Linked DNA regions of Homo sapiens. The protein of the gene in region 2 interacts with the protein of the main gene of each other region in a pairwise test. Each region holds a gene or a part of one and is shown on either strand. Other genes may lie near its edges.

Region 1 (3,500 bases), on a different chromosome or scaffold from region 2:
TTCAGATACCTGAAAGAGCAGGGGCAAAAAGTATACTAAGCCACCATGTCAGAAAGTATACATATGAGACATATGAGTCCAGAATCTTAAGGATTTTAAGGCCATCTCTCTCAGAATAAGTCCTATCCATTCAGTTCCTTTGTGATATCTGCCTGTTCTTTGTGTTAAAAAACCTTGCTCTTGTTGCTGTTTAATTTACTTATATATTTTTTATATAAGTATATCTAAGAATTCTCTTTATGCCTTTTCTATGCACAAAAATTGTCTACTCCCTTTACTTCCTTCCTTTCTAAAATAAAAATTCTACAGACTTCCTCTGGGTTCTTATTTTCAGTTTAATTGTTGTCCTTTGGGTCAGCACTAATATTTCTTCATCCCTTTCTTAAGTGGAATGTATACTTCAGTCATAGTTTTGGGCTGTAAAATTACTCTTTTATACCTAATTTTTTTTACATTATATATTTTCCCATCATATTCATTTATGGCCATAATAGGCCAGAGCAAAAGTATTATAAATGCTCATGAAGTACTAAGCATTTCTTAATTATGGATACATAACAGCTCCTTAATTCTTAAAAATACATAATAGTTGTTATATAGCAAACTTTTTCTTTTTTGAGACAGGGTCTTGCTATGCAGCTCAGACTGGAGTGCAGTGGCATGATCATAGCTCACTGCAGGCTGGAACTCCTGGGCTTAAGCAATCCTCCTACCTCACCCTCCTGAGTAGCTGGGACTATAGATGTATGCCACCACACCCAGCTAATTAAAAAGAAAAAAAATTTTTTTTTTTTTTGTAGGGATGGGGTCTATGTTGCCCAGGCTGGTAGTCTCAAGCTCCTGGCGTCAAGTGATCCTCCTGCCTTGGTCTCCCAAAGTATTGGGAAGACAGGCATGAGCCATTGTGTCTGGCTGATATACAGTACACTCCTTAGAGTACATGGCTACCTGGTTTCTATTCCTGTCCAAACTTCTTGTTCTCATTTTTTGTTGTTGTTGTTCGCACTTAACAATATGCTTACAATCAAGAATGTTTTCATAAAGTTAGATTTACATAAGTTTTCTGTTACTTGGGAACCAAATGTATTTGTAAAAAAGTTTAAGCAGAGTATGAAGACTTTTTCCCTCAGGTCAAGGACTTTTGAATTAAATTTGCTGATTCCTGGAGGCTCAAAAAGTACTTTTCTTTAGAAAAACAAATATGCTACTCTATCAGGTTGAAATGGAACATGTGTATTGAACCAGAGAGGAATAGGTACTATCTGTTATATATTATTATTATCAATTTTATATTCTGTGGTTCTGTAAGACAGCTCACTTTAACTAGGTCCCAATGAGTACTTTCCTGAACTGCTTTTACAGTAATATTAAAAATTATAAATTCCATTTTAAAAATGATTTCAGGTTATATTATACTTTACCATTCTACTCAACTTTCACACAGTACACATAACCTGAGTTATGGTCATGTGGCCCAGTACTGAAATTACTTGGGCATTATTAGATAGCTTTAAAAAAACAACTCCATCCTTAGGTGGGTGATAAAGGATCTGGTTCAAAGAAATCCAAAGGGGAAATATATCCAACTGTACATTGTGGGTTACTTTGACAATTATGTGCTTCCAAATGTTCTGGCTAGATGTATCACCAAGAAATAATACAGTGCTATAGAATAAGTCTGAAAGGATTAAATACTTCTTGAGTAATACGTAACTAATATAACTGACATTTGGGCATCTCTCACAAGTGAACAAATTTCACATTGGACAGCCACACAACTGAATTCAATGCTTGATACTTACTTCTGGTAATATACCCCCTATGACAGTGACATAGAAACATGCTTTAAAGAACTCAATAATAAATTACTGATCTTTACGGGCCTCTTCATCTACCAATCTAATTTGGCAATATGCCTAAATTTGGTTCCATGGACAGAAAACAGGGCTAGTTTCAAAATTAGGGTTGGCCTTAAGGAACCAAAGCCTATTACATTTAGGGACTATGAGATAAATTCCTCATGAAAACAATCTTACCGGTCTGTCAACCTGCATGATCTCCCAGAGCACTTCAGCCACATCTGGTAGGGTATAGGGGGGGAGGCAAAAGCAGCAGGTGTGCAGCAGCTGGCTGACAAGCTGCTGTCCAAGCTGGTTCATCACCTGTCCAATCAGTTCTTTCCGTAATTCAAAGTCTTCTTCATGCTGTATGTAGGAAAGCAGGAACATCAGATAAATTCTAGTCTCAACTTCCCAAAGACCAAGCACTCTTTCCCCTTTAGTAATTTCTCTTTAATAGGAAAGTGTGTGTGTGTGTGCACGCGTGGCTGTGTGTGTGTGTATGCAGGTGTGTGTAAAATGACAGCTGGATTCACAAAGTCCAGAAGTTTTTTGTCTTTAGAAAGAAAATGAAGGAGTTTATTAGTATCCAAGGAATGAACATGGGTTTCAACAGAGATTAATGCTTAGATTTTTCATGATTTGAAGGCAGAAAACATGGTTAAGAATTAAAGTTAGCAATTTTTAAAATTTTTTTCTCTTCATCTTCTATGTGATGGTATTAATTTTTTTTTAATGTGAAAAATAACTTGTGTTCCTATTTCCTTTTTTAAAAACTAAGTCAGCCTGGCATGGCAGCACACACCATAGTCCCAGCCACTCCAAAGGCGCAGGTAGGGGAACAGCTTGAACCCAGTGTTCTGGGCTAGAGCATGCTATACCAATTGGGTGCCTGTACTAAGTTCAGCATCAATGTGGTGACCTCCCAGGAGTGAGGAACCACTCCTGGGTTGCCTAAGGAGGGAGGGGTGAACAGCCCAAGTCAGAAACAGAGTGGGTCAAAATTCCATTCTGATCTGTAGTGGGATCTCGCCTGTGAATGGCCACTACAGTCTGTCTGGGTAACACAGCCGGAACCCCAAGTCACAACAAAACAAAACAAAACAAAACCAACTGAAATTAGAATTGAAGACGTCTATCAGAGATCTAATTTTTTCTATCGAAAAAAAAAAAACCCTTTTTTTCTTCTTGCGGTCTTTAATTTTTTTTTTTCTGAGACAGCGTCTTGCTCTGTCACCCAGGCTGGAGTGCAGTGGCCTGATCTTAGCTAACTGAAACCTCCATCCCCTGGGTTCAAGCAATTCTCCTGCCTCAGCCTCCCTAGAAACTGGGATTACAGGCATACACTACCACACTTGGCTAATTTTTGTATTTTTAGTAGAGACAGGGTTTCACCATGTTGGCCAGGCTGGTCTTGAACTCCTGACCTCAAGTGATCTGCACGCCTTGGCCTCCCAAAGTGCTGGGATTACAGGCGTGAGCCACTGCGCCTGGCCCTTCTTGTGGTCTTTAAATACACATGTATTTCTAATACCTTGAGAAAAATATTTTTTAAATTGCCTTTCCCTTCTAGTTATTTTCTTCTCTCTTTTACTGCCAAACTTCTTAAATGAATAGCCTAAATAGAATGCAGAATACTTACTTCTTCACTGCTCTCCCCTG
Region 2 (3,500 bases):
GATTATCAGGGTTTCTCCCTCCCTCCCTCCCTTCCTCCCTTCCTTCCTTCCTTCTTTTTTGAGATGGAGTCTCATTGCGAGGCCCAGGCTAGAGTGCAATAGCATGATCTTGGCTCAACCTCCACCTCCCCGGTTCAAAAGATTCTCCTGCCCCAGCCTCCTGAGTAGCTGGGACTATAGGTGCGCACCACCATGCCCAGCTAATTTTTTGTATCTTTAGTAGAGATGGAGTTTCACCATGTTGGCCAGGCTGGTCTTGAACTCCTGACCTCAAGTGATCTGCCCACCTTGGCCTCCCAAAGTGCTGGGATTACAGGGGTGAGCCACCACGACTGGCTATCAGGGTTTCAATTTAGGTTTTGCTGCTTATTTGTTATGTGAACTTGAGTAAGTTACTTCTTAATCTAATTATTTTATTGTTAAGTAATGATAACAGTAGGCTCCCTGTGAGAATTAAATAAACTTCTGTGTGGAGAGTGCTGGCACTCATTAGACACTCTGTACAGAGTAGCTATTATTATTATAGTTGTAGAGAAATGAGTCAGGGGAAAGTGGAAATAAAGTTTGAGCATTAAATGCTTTATTAGTTGAATGACACATATCCTACTTCATGAAATTCTGAAGATGATTTTAAAGTGAGTATGCTCTTTCTGCCACAATGGAGGTTATTGACCCAATGGTCATAGTCCTCTGAAATTTTAGTCCCAGTTGAGCACCAAGCATCCAATTAATTCCCTATAATTTTTTTCAAGAAGAAGGGGCTAAGGTAGTTATTTTATTATCATTCTAGTTCAGTGAGAGATTCAAAGACTAACGTTACCGAGTGAAGCAGCTACTTTAAAGCGGAGCTGGGTGATAATTTGTTTAAGATGAAGTCCTTCTCTCCTTTCTCCCTATACTTATAAAAAATGAAGCCCCCGTGCAAGCAGAAAGACTTACTTTCATGTCTAAGTGACATGAAGATACTTCTGGGAGCAGTCTACACCAACCTTAGATGGCTTCTATGCAAATTCTCTCATAGCAACATGTTTCATTTATATTCATTTATTTCTGCTTCCATTATTAGGAAAATCACAGTGCCTTCTGGGTATATCAGAACCTACCTGAAATTCACAAACTCTAAACAATGAATGCTCAACTCTGTTGTATGAAGTAGCCACAATTACCAACCTTCCTGCACAAATCAAACAAGAGATATCTTAAAATAGGAATGATGCTGAAACTCTACAGCTTTTGTGTGAAACACATAGAAGAAGAAAGTAAAACAGGACAAACTCCGTGGGCAGGTAACATTACCTCAGTGTTTATGGCATTTTTCTTTTTGGGCCGGTTGAACATGATCTTTGTGATGCCATCTTCGGAGGTCACCACCAGAGTTTCAAACCCAGTTGATTTCCTGTCTGTTCCAGGCTCCACCTGACTAGAGGATTCCAATGAAGGACTCAAACTGGACACCAAATCCACATAGTTCTGCCTGGCAGCTTCCTGAACGGACGATGACAAACAACCTCAGCCCATGGTCAATGAATAAGCACTTTGAGAAAGTTACTATACTAATAACTAACACCTTGCAATGAAGAAAGAATAGAAGCACATCAAGATCTTGAAGACTCCATTTACAATGGCTTAATGAGAAGCACAAACTTCTTTAGAAGTACAGCAAATAAAAGCACAGTAACTAGTAAACTCACCTTGGGCAGGCTGCCAAGGGCATTCCATGCGTCCCATTTGGCCTTGTTGATCAAGTCAAATACACCTGGTTTGGGCATGTTACAAGGTCCTTCAGTGGCCTGTGAAAAGGAGAGGGGCAATATGTTCAAATGTCCATGTAAACTAGACCCCTAAATATTTAAGATCCATAAAATCTGTAAGTACATGAATGCCTCCCCCAAATCCTTTCACAGGGTATGTAAATTGATCTGAATTTTCCCCTCCAGTCTCTTTGATGTTGTTGCCAAAAATGCACAAACAGAAAAAAGACTGGAAATAAATTATAACTGCCTGTCTATGAAAATAATGCAGGATAAAGGTTTTGGGGAAGTATTTTCTAAAAAAATCTAATGGTTCATTAGTTTTATATTGGTAATCACATTTTCCACAAACAATCAAAATATTCAAGCAAACAATCTTTACAAGGAACTAGTCAACAAATACTTGAAAACCCACAGCATATTCCAAAAGCCCATCTGAAGGTACAAAAAAAAACACCACTAATTCAGTGGTGGACTTTTGGTACCTGGGTAACAAAACTGTAGCTGAGGGGCTAGGGTGGGGCTATCAGAGCTACTGGTTCTTAGGAAACCTAACTGAAGAACATGTAAGTAAAAAGCAAAAAGGAATTAAATTTTATTTTTGAGGCTAGGTGGAGTGGGTGTTTTGAGATGAATAAAATATCCCACTCAGCTACTTTTCAGAAATAGCAATTTAAAATTCCAGTTAAAATTTTTAAAATTTTATAATACAGTTAGAGAGGAAAGAAGAAAGAGTCTTTGAAAAACAAGCCAGGTGTGGTGGCTCACACCTGTAATCTCAGCACTTTGGGAGGCTGAGGTGGGTGGATCACCTGAGGTCAGGAGTTCGAGACCAGCCTGACCAATATGGTAAAACCCCATCTCTACTAAAAATACAAAAATTAGCCAGGCATGGTGGCAGGTTCCTGTAATTCCAGCTGCTTGGGAGGCTGAGGCAGAAGGATTGCCTGAACCTGGGAGGCAGAGGTTGCAGTGAGCTGAGATGGTGCCGCTGCACTCTACCCTGCGTGACAGAGCAAAACTCTGTCTCAAAAAAACAAAATAAAAACAAAAGAAAAAAGAAAAAAGAAAAAGGCAGTAAAGGAGGTTATGAATTTCTTTAGACAGAGATAGTGTCATCTGGCAAGAGTTGGCCAACCTAGAAGTTAGAGGGAACACAGTCCACAGGATAAGGGCTTGCCTTTGTCTCCTGACTGTCCTCAATGCTAACACCAATTGCAAGGCTGGAGGGCACCCAGGACCACCCTCAAGTGCAACAATTTGCTAGAAAGACACCCAGAACTCACTGCAAGCTGTTAAACGCACAATTAATAGTTTATTAAGGGAAAGGATAGAGATTAGAATCATCCAAGGGAGGACACACACAGGATGGAGTCTGGGGCAGTAGCAAATGTGGAGTTTCCATTGTCCTTTCCCCATGGAGTCAGCATAGGGCACCTCTACCAGAATTGATGTGACAGTACACAGGGAGTCCTGCCAACCAGAGATGCTCAGCTCATCCAGTCTCGGTGTCCAGAGTTTTTAACAGGGCTCCATCACCTGTGCATGACTGTATAACCTGAAGCCCCCACCCTAAATCACATCGTTAAGACAATCCAGGCAAATAAAGACTCCTACCAGTCATTAGAGATTCACTTCCCAGAAGCTGAGGGCAAAGCCACACCTCTTCTGGGGCAAGGTTAAATTTTTTACTATACACACCCATATGAAAGAGAAGCTCATACCCATCATAGGACAGAAAAATAGATA

What was found.
Region 1: the proteins of ECI2 (region 2) and TNPO3 interact in binary tests that used the Homo sapiens proteins (3 or more experiments, as listed by UniProt).

What each region holds. Positions count from the first base shown.
Region 1 is NC_000007.14:128,968,112-128,971,611, forward strand, and holds part of TNPO3 (transportin-3), read right to left. Parts: intron 2,205-3,500; coding exon 2,037-2,204; intron 1-2,036. UniProt on the Homo sapiens protein: Importin, which transports target proteins into the nucleus. Specifically mediates the nuclear import of splicing factor serine/arginine (SR) proteins, such as RBM4, SFRS1 and SFRS2, by recognizing phosphorylated SR domains.
Region 2 is NC_000006.12:4,129,076-4,132,575, forward strand, and holds part of ECI2 (enoyl-CoA delta isomerase 2), read right to left. Parts: intron 1,791-3,500; coding exon 1,692-1,790; intron 1,691-1,691; exon of another isoform or gene 1,486-1,690; coding exon 1,297-1,485; intron 1,287-1,296; exon of another isoform or gene 1,067-1,286; intron 1-1,066. UniProt on the Homo sapiens protein: Able to isomerize both 3-cis and 3-trans double bonds into the 2-trans form in a range of enoyl-CoA species. Has a preference for 3-trans substrates.